2 linked regions of the Homo sapiens genome follow. The protein of the gene in region 1 purifies or fractionates together with the protein of each later gene. This does not show direct contact. Each region holds a gene or a part of one and is shown in the gene's direction. Other genes may lie near its edges.

The links.
Region 2: the proteins of SPSB4 (region 1) and LRIG3 purify together in Homo sapiens (co-immunoprecipitation; 2 studies listed by BioGRID and IntAct, with this or other methods). This does not show direct contact.

Annotation. Positions count from the first base shown.
Region 1 is NC_000003.12:141,064,274-141,068,646, forward strand, and holds part of SPSB4 (SPRY domain-containing SOCS box protein 4), read left to right. Parts: intron 1-1,678; 5' UTR 1,679-1,831; coding exon 1,832-2,525; intron 2,526-4,373. UniProt on the Homo sapiens protein: Substrate recognition component of a SCF-like ECS (Elongin BC-CUL2/5-SOCS-box protein) E3 ubiquitin-protein ligase complex which mediates the ubiquitination and subsequent proteasomal degradation of target proteins.
Region 2 is NC_000012.12:58,917,438-58,922,528, reverse strand, and holds the start of LRIG3 (leucine-rich repeats and immunoglobulin-like domains protein 3 isoform 2 precursor), read left to right. Parts: upstream 1-2,024; 5' UTR 2,025-2,293; coding exon 2,294-2,529; intron 2,530-3,023; exon of another isoform or gene 3,024-3,046; coding exon of another isoform or gene 3,047-3,102; intron 3,103-5,091. UniProt on the Homo sapiens protein: May play a role in craniofacial and inner ear morphogenesis during embryonic development. May act within the otic vesicle epithelium to control formation of the lateral semicircular canal in the inner ear, possibly by restricting the expression of NTN1.

The DNA of each region.
Region 1 (4,373 bases):
CAGGTTATAAATGTGTTCTAGTTTGCTGAAGAAGGAGTTTGCATTTCTTTTTTTCTCCTGGATTTTGGGTGATTTCGGATATGAAAAGGAGTAACTTTATTCTGCTATCTTAAAACTGCCTAGTGTTGCAAATTGTTATGTGTTCTGGTATTCCCTCAGATTGAACATTAGCCAGAGCTCTCGGAATAGGGTCAACATCTGCTGAAGCTGGGATCTGACAATAGAGAGGGAAGAGTATGAGAGTTAAGAATAAAATGGAATGGTGAAAAACCCACAGGATACTTGTCTGTGCTGTGTGGCAGCAGAGTTCTTTTCGTCCCTACCTGGACTTTGGCTAGGGGTGTACCACTGTCTGGGTGGGAGGTTGAGGCTGGGGAGGGCAGGGCATGAAAAACACCCATCCATCTCCTCATCTGGCTCAGGAGAAGTTGTTCTAGGCCCAGCAGCTCTCAGGCCAGGGAGGGGAGGGCACACGCCTCTGCTCTGGACAGGGCTTGGCTCTCCATCTCTCTCCATACCCAGGGCCCGTCCAAGTAGTCCGAGCTCCTTGGGTTCTGTCTGGTTTCCTAGTGATGGTGGCCAATTCCTTCTCCATGAAAACCAGGATCCTGTCTCAGGGAAGGCAGTCTGGGGTCAGTGCTGTTAATGGTATTTACCTGATCGAACAAAGAGCTCACCCATCCAAAGGGAGGGGATCCACATGGGATGCCCAGAGAACAGAGCCAGAGAGGAAAACCTGTCGGCAGAGTTCCAGGACCCTTTATATTATGGTCTCTCAAGTTCCCCCATCACCAGAGGGAGGTGTTTTATCCTCATGTTTTTTACTGGCAAGAAATCTGGAGTATCCAAGAGGCTAGGAGGCTTTCCTGTGGACCCACAGTAGGAGATGGAGAGAGGGATTTGGACGCAGTTCTGTCTGGCTCCAGAGCCTGGACACCGGCTCCCTTATCCTTCCTCCTCACCTCTATTGACCTCCATTCACCTTCCCATGGAGCTCTCACCCCATCTTCCCACGCTGCCTGATGTCCATGTCCCTGGTGACCCTGCTGCACCTTGTTCTGTGTCTTGCCGCTCAAGCCTGGCTACATTTTAGGAGGTTATTTAGGCTCCCCAGGACTCCAGGGTTGGGAACCAATGGGCCACACCCTACAGCCCTGTGTCTTGAGCAGCTGTGTGCCCCCCAGCCTTGGCACAAGGCTTGTCCCCTGGGATCAAAAGCACCTGGGTTCTCATCCAGGCTCTGACCTTGAGCAAGTCACAACTGCTCTGGGCTCACGCCTTATTTCTAAAATCAGACTCCCTATGATTGTTCTAGGTCCGGAACACAGACCCTGAAGCCAGATGACCTTGGTTTGAATCTTGGCTCAGTCACTTATTTGCAGTGGGACTTCGGCTAATCGCTTATCCTCTCTCTGACTTCAGTGTTCTCATCTGTAAATTGTGAATAATAATGTATATCTCTTATAGGGAGATGTTAAGGATTAAACAAACTAATAAACATAAATAATTTAGAACACTGGCATATGGCAGGTGCTAGATTAGTGCCAGATATGAGTGTACGAATTATTACTATTATTGTGCATGCAAAGGGCTCAGCCAAGGCATGGACATAAATGAAGGGATTGGCAACTGGCTGCTGATGCTGCTGCTATAACCCGTGCCCTTTGCTTCCTTCCAGGAGCTTGGGCCCCTGCCGCAGCCCGGTAGAGGCTGTGGAGGTCTACCGTCCGGAAGCCTGGTTCCCAGCCCCGTGGCCCATTCCTGGCTACGGGGAGTGGAGGCTCCCACGAGGTAGCGGTGGCCTGCAGCGGCCTCCTCCCCGCAGTGAAGCATGGGCCAGAAGCTCTCGGGGAGCCTCAAGTCAGTGGAGGTGCGAGAGCCGGCGCTGCGGCCGGCCAAGCGGGAGCTGCGGGGTGCAGAGCCCGGGCGGCCGGCGCGGCTGGACCAGCTGTTGGACATGCCAGCGGCGGGGCTGGCTGTGCAGCTGCGGCACGCGTGGAACCCCGAGGACCGCTCGCTCAACGTCTTCGTCAAGGACGACGACCGGCTCACCTTCCACCGGCACCCCGTGGCCCAGAGCACCGACGGCATCCGCGGCAAGGTGGGCCACGCCCGCGGCCTGCACGCCTGGCAGATCAACTGGCCGGCTCGGCAGCGCGGCACCCACGCTGTAGTTGGTGTGGCCACGGCCCGTGCTCCCCTGCACTCCGTGGGCTACACGGCGCTGGTAGGCAGTGACGCCGAGTCGTGGGGCTGGGACCTGGGCCGCAGCCGCCTCTACCACGACGGCAAGAACCAGCCCGGCGTGGCCTACCCGGCCTTTCTGGGGCCCGACGAGGCCTTTGCGCTGCCCGACTCGCTGCTCGTGGTGCTGGACATGGATGAGGGCACACTCAGCTTCATCGTGGATGGCCAGTACCTGGGCGTGGCCTTCCGAGGTCTCAAGGGCAAGAAGCTGTACCCGGTGGTGAGTGCCGTGTGGGGCCACTGTGAAGTCACCATGCGCTACATCAACGGCCTTGACCGTAAGTTGTGCTGGGCTGGGGGGCAGGGCTTTCAGAGGCTGCCAGGCCCTAGGGAAGCTGGGCAGGCCACACCTCCATCGCCACTTGGGAGGATCCTGCAATGTGGAGGAATGGTCAGGACCTGGGTTTCAATCCTGACTCTCTGCTGGCTTGGTGATTTGGGGCTGTGCCTTAGTTCTCCCATCGGCAAAAGCATCACGATGATAGTAATCTAGCTCACAGTTGTAACGATCAAATAAAGTAATAGTAATCTAGCTCACAGTTGTGAAGATCTAGATAACATGTGTGAAGTGCTCAGAACAGTGACTGGCACCCAACAGGGGCTTTGAGTGTTGATGCCAATTACCAATCTTCCAGTCTGTACAAAGGTTGTACCAAATGACCCAAGCTAGTCACAATGGGAAGACAGTGACAAGTCCCCAGTCCCTGCACTTAAATGCCATGTACTCAAGTTATTGATAAGTAATAAGTACTGATAACCGTCCTTTATTGGCCATCTACTGTATTTGAGAGGCTGAACACCCCAATTCCAGCGCTTATGGGCCAACTATTAAAGGGGACAGCTGCCTCTTATCTCCAGCCGACTGTCATCTCACGGGAATGAAAACCCTGGGTTGTGGAATCTTGTGACTTTTTCCAAGAGAGCCCAGAAATCTAGCTTGTGTGAACTGTTCCAATTTTTAAAGTTGACAGCTGCTGAAAAGTCTATATGGGCAAACAAAATACCCTTGCAGGCTACAAACCAGCCCACAAGCTGCTGGGGTTGACCCCTGACAACTCTATGGCTTCCTCTCATTTAATATACACAACCATCCGGCAAGATAAAAAGTGTAGGAACAAAGACGGTTATTGGTTTTGGGAGGGAGTCACTCAGGGAGACAGGGTGGCCTCTGGACAGAGGCACACGTGGCTGCCTGTCCTGAGTTGAATCCCAGCTGAGGGGCCAGGAGCCAGGCACTTGTGGGCTTGCACACTCCCCAACATCAGCCCACTAGCACCAATCCAGACTTCCTGCCACACCCCAATGAAGCTCTCAGAGGTGGCGCTGAAAGCTAGAATTTCCAGTTTATTCATTCTAAATAAGAGATGTAATTACCAGCCCCTGAGGCAGATCCTCCTTTTAGAAATAAGAAAACTTAAGAGCAGAGCTACAGAGAGCCAGAATCAGGGTTCCCCCCAGTTCTGATGGCCCTGAAGTCCACTCGTTTCCTATGTTCTCCCCTTTAGATGAGGGACTGAGAGTAACACTCCAGAAAAGAGTAACACTTCTCCAGAAAAGAAGTCAAGGACAAGATTTTACTCAAGCAAAATTTACATTTACTGGAGCACAGGAAGGGGACATTTGATGGTTTCCAAGGGTGGCAGGCTAATGGAAAAGTGGCTGCTGGTATGCTCAGCACTCTGGCATAATTGTCGACATTCTTGCTCATATTTTATTTCCGTGGTTGTTGCCTACAATTGCCATTGAATGGCAAAATGTTGTTCCATTTTCTCTGTTTAATGGGTTAAATCTAGGAACTGATGATTATGTCCCTGAGAAGGGCTAATTTAGTCATCACAGTGCCTTGTGGAAAGTGTCTGGAGCCTTCTGAGACATAGTGACCAGGCAAATCCCAGTGGTGAGAAAACCAACAGAAACAACAAACAATCTTTATTTAATGGAATTGGAAAATTTATTTGCTGGAATTAATCACTGGACTAGAAGAGTGGCCTTGGTGTACCAAGGCTCTGGAGTCTGATGTGACTTATTTCCAAGTGCTCAGTGGTTTTGTGTCTTTGGTGAGTCACTCTTACTCCTTAAGACTCACTTTATTCATCTGCAAAATGGGATAGTATCAGGTCCCCTTT
Region 2 (5,091 bases), on another chromosome or scaffold:
AGAATGAGAAAAGGAAATGAGCCAAAACTCCCCAAAATGGTAGCACATTTATATCCCTGTCATATGTCTCATGTCTCAAGAGCAAGCCTCCATACTGATGTTACCTTGCTTATGCATAATGGCATGTGTACAATGGAATCTTTCTTCTTTTTAAAAACTTCAATGAATTATACCTAATTTTCCTTGTATGAAATAGATGGGGGGCCGGGTGTGGTGGCTCACGCCTGTAATCCCAACACTTTGGGAGGCCAAAGCGGGCGGATAGCCTGAGGTCAGGAGTTAGAAACCAGCTTGGCCAACATGGTGAAACCCTGTCTCCACTAAAAATACAAAAAAATTAGCCGGGTGTGGTGGTGGGCACCTGTAATCCCAGCTACTTGGGAGGCTGAAGCAGGATAATTGCTTGAACCCAGGGGGTAGAGGTTGCAGCGAGCCGACATCGCATCACTGCACCCCACTCCAGCCTGGGTGACAGACTGGAGTGTCTCCATCTCAAAAATAAAAAAATAAAAAAAATAAATAAAAATAGATGGGGGATACTGAGCTGGAAAATCCTTACTATGACTGTAGTGTGTTTTGTCTACTCCCAAGCAGACAAAATCATAAATTCAAAACCAAGGTGCCATCATTATAGATATTTTCTAATTATAATTATACATCATCCAAAAAGGTAGTAGCGTTGTTGTTAATGGTAGCTGGAAATAAGAAAATGGGATACCATATCTAAAATAGGGTGTGTTAACTTCAAAGTGAGTCTTTTCCTTCCCCCGTAAGTGGGAGTGATTTGCTACAGTGAAAAATCAATGGGCCTTAGAGTCAGGGTTAAAGTCTCAACTCCACAAGCTATCTCCACTCCTCAATCATGAGCAGTTTACGCAACTCCAAGGACAGACAAGCTTGGGCAGACAGCATGCAATAAACAATGTATAGAAGTGAAAACTTACTTTAAGCTTCCAGGGTTTGTTTTTTGGTTTGTTCATGTTTTCTGTCTTGCTTTTATTTTTATTTTTTTTGCAACAAACACATTAGTTACGTTCTCTAGGTCTATTTCCTTACCCAGAGGAGGAAGGCCCCTTAGCACATGATCTCTGCGGTCTCCATTAGTTTCAACATCTTGTGGCGCTGATCACCTGTAAGTTAAGGAACAAACTTCACTGGGAAGTCCTGTAGCCTGAATCCAGCCCCAAACATCCACTCCCCCAGCTGAGGAGGCCGGGAGGTACTTTTACCCTGGTAGCATTCTCAATCAACATGTGTCATTACTCAAAGCGCAAGTGGACCAAGGTGCATATACTAATTTTTTCCTCCAAGGTCTTAGTTTTCATTTTACTTTGAAATGTCACTGTGACTACTTTTATTATTACTATTACCAGGAATCTATGATTGCCATCGAGGTCTATTAGAAGGTCATCTCCCATCCCCCACCCCGCCCAGCTTTATCCAGTGCACGAAGGCTGGCTATTTGTAATTCAATATACACTTTCCAAAACCACGAGTTTTACGTTTTATTATTGTTTTTACTTTTGAAGCCGATGTATGGGGGAACACCCACCAGCATTAACGTTGAAAGAGCTGTTTTCATTGAAACCACTCTTTCATCTGTGGATGGTAGGATAATTTATCAGTGTCTTTAATTTGGAATTGAAAAGTTTCCTGAAAACACTGCTAATTAAACTTTACTTCCCTGAAGTTCTCCTAAATACCTCCAACTCCGAGAACTAGCCCAGTATTTGCTCACTTCCTTTTGCCTTTCAACTCCATTTGATATATGTTTCCCACGACGTAGTGGAGACTTCTGGCTGGAGAGGCTGGAAAATATAACTCTGAATTTCCTACAATCTCAGCTCCACTTTCTCCCGCGCGTAGGCCCCCGGCTGGAGCGGTGTTATTGTCACGTGGCCACGGGGACGCCCGCAGCCGAGTCGGCCAATGGGCGCGCGTCGGCCTCTACCCGCCCGCCTTGCTACTCCGCCGCGCGGGGACTTGGCGCAGTGCCGCGGGGTGGAGGCGAAAAAGTTTCTTTTGCAGACAAGAAGGGGCTTCGGCGAGCCGACGCTGCTCAAGCTGCAACTCTGTTGCAGTTGGCAGTTCTTTTCGGTTTCCCTCCTGCTGTTTGGGGGCATGAAAGGGCTTCGCCGCCGGGAGTAAAAGAAGGAATTGACCGGGCAGCGCGAGGGAGGAGCGCGCACGCGACCGCGAGGGCGGGCGTGCACCCTCGGCTGGAAGTTTGTGCCGGGCCCCGAGCGCGCGCCGGCTGGGAGCTTCGGGTAGAGACCTAGGCCGCTGGACCGCGATGAGCGCGCCGAGCCTCCGTGCGCGCGCCGCGGGGTTGGGGCTGCTGCTGTGCGCGGTGCTGGGGCGCGCTGGCCGGTCAGACAGCGGCGGTCGCGGGGAACTCGGGCAGCCCTCTGGGGTAGCCGCCGAGCGCCCATGCCCCACTACCTGCCGCTGCCTCGGGGACCTGCTGGACTGCAGTCGTAAGCGGCTAGCGCGTCTTCCCGAGCCACTCCCGTCCTGGGTCGCTCGGCTGTAAGTATTCTTCCCGCGGGGGGAGGGGGCCCGGGCCGCTGGAGATTCGAGAAAACAGGAGCCGGCGGGGAATGGGGTTCGGCGTGCAGTCCCCTTTTTGCCGTATAGCTCCTTCTGGCCCAGGCCGCGATCGGCGCTCCGTGGGCGTGGAAAAAGAACTGTCCGGGCCTCAGTTTCCCTCCCACGTGCTTTGCGGGCGGCGCAGGTGGGCTCTTGGCGCGTCCTAACTGGCTGCAGGTAGACCAGGGTTGGGGGCCAGTAACGACGCCAGAGATTGGGGATGAAGTCCTGCGCCCTAAGCTAGCCAAGGGGTTCAAATGCTTGCTCCTGCCAGGCCCAGGGGAGATAAGCGGCAACCTGCACACATCAGGAGTTTGCAGTTCTCGCTGAGTTATGAGTCTGGTTCAGTTTTAGTTTCTAGCTGCGTCAGACTCCTTTTCCTGTTCCCACCCAGTAACTGAAGTCAGGCTTTTCATTTGGGAAGCCCCCTCAACAGAATTCGGTCATTCTCCAAGTTATGGTGGACGTACTTCTGTTGTTCTCCCTCTGCTTGCTTTTTCACATTAGCAGACCGTAAGTTCCCACTCCTCAACCAGATTGTAAAGACTGGTCGGTAGCTATGGAAAGGGCGGAACTCGATTATCCAGAATCAAGGGCGTGATTTCTGTAGCTCCTCAGAACGCCCAGACGGTTTAGGGGAGAGCGCAGGGAGCTCTTATGCAAGTTTTTGGATTTTTAGCTGCGAAGTCTGAAAACCTGAAATCACTGCCAACTGCGTGAAGAACAAGGAAGAAAATGTAATTTAGTTGGAAATGCTGATCTTTTCCAAATGTCATCTCTTTTCTTCCTCAGTCCCAGTTTTAAAATTGGAGTGCTGTAAAAAGTAAACAATCAAAATTTGTATTTTTTAAAGTAGTTGTTCTGTTTAAAATAAAAGTGCACTTCATACGTAATCTTATATTTTGACTTAGCAGAATTGCAATGAAAATTTTAAGTTTTTAAAACAATTCTAGTGAACTATTCCAATGCCCTAATGTGGTAGGAGGTTTGGTCAGGTGTTTAAGAATTTATATTTTAAAATTATTGTGCTAATCTAAATAACTTTTGTGAATGTAGAATTGTTGGCCATCAGAAAGTATATTCCTTGTGTTTTTAATAAGCCTTAGTTTAATAAAGTAGAATTAGTATTGGATTGATATTTAATTTCTTGGGACGTTTTATTTAGTAGTTTTTATTGCAATTGGAAGAGGAGATAAGGTCTTTAACCGAAAGCAGGGAGACTTTCAATTAGTTGTGGCTAATTCTGTTAAATTGCCTCTTGTGGAGGTCATGCTGCCTTATTCATGAGTGAATGGCTCTATTGACAACATATGGAACTGAACATGTAAATGACTGGAGGTGAACACTTAGGAATAATAGAGGGATGAGAAAGAGAAAATGAATACAGTGCTTCCTGGAGTGTATTTAGATATGCTTAGATTATTCACGGCATCTAACTTGTATTCGATAGTTTTTCAATGTCAAGTTGTCTATTGTGATCATGCTAGTGTGCAGTACTTTTTTTCTTTTTTCCTGGATTTAGATGTTTAGAAAAAAAATCTGTGTTGCCCTTGATCAGAAGTTGAGTTGAACCAAAAGGGGTTCGATACCTATTTAAACATTGTCTTAAAAGTAGCTGACCTAATTAGGATTTTGTTTTGCAGATAATTTGGTGGCACACTAAAAACAAATTAGAGTTTATTTGGTTAGCACAGTCTTTAATTACATTTCCACCAGCAGTAAATTGTCTCAATACTAGCCCACATTCCTTAAATGTATGTGAAAATAAGTTCCACTTGTATAAATAAGCACTCAGTCTGTTGTCAGGAACCCTGCTGTGATCACTTATTGGACAGCTCTGTCATTCCTGTACTTCTGTGACTTTTAACCATCTTTGTAGGTGTCACCAAACCATGTGGTCTGGATTCTTTATTGTAAATATTTCTTTTGTTTGTACCTAAAGCTCTAGAGGTCTCCTCTTTCCACTTTTGAAAGGAGCAGAAAAACACGTGGAATTGAGTTTTACTTTCTCTGTTATTTGGTATTTTAGAATAGGTGGTCTAAAAAGCTACTAAAGTTTTTCGTAATTAGAAAAATCGTCTTAAGGAGATGATTTCCGAGTTCAGATATAAATAGAAAAATGCATGTTTTTGTTCCCCATATCTTACCTTCCCTTTCCTTGGGTAATCAAAATAGTAGGAGTTTGTCTTTGGACTGGCTTATGAAAGCACTTTTCAGAAAAAGTTCAGTGTCTATCTTTTGTTTCATTTGTTGAATTTGCAAGTTTAAGAAAAATTACGTGTGTATGTATTTTTTCCACTTTATTTGGTTGTGATTTATTACTATAGGAGTCCCATGTGTGAAAAGTCGAATAGTTTGAGCTGTAAAATAATAATACTGTATCAGTACTCCTTTTAGAAAATAACCTCTAATGCTTTAATGAAAGTGGCTCTTAAAGAGTAACTATGTGAGCGAGACTTTGTCTAAAAAAAAACAACCCAGTAACTACGCCAAGCCTTGCTC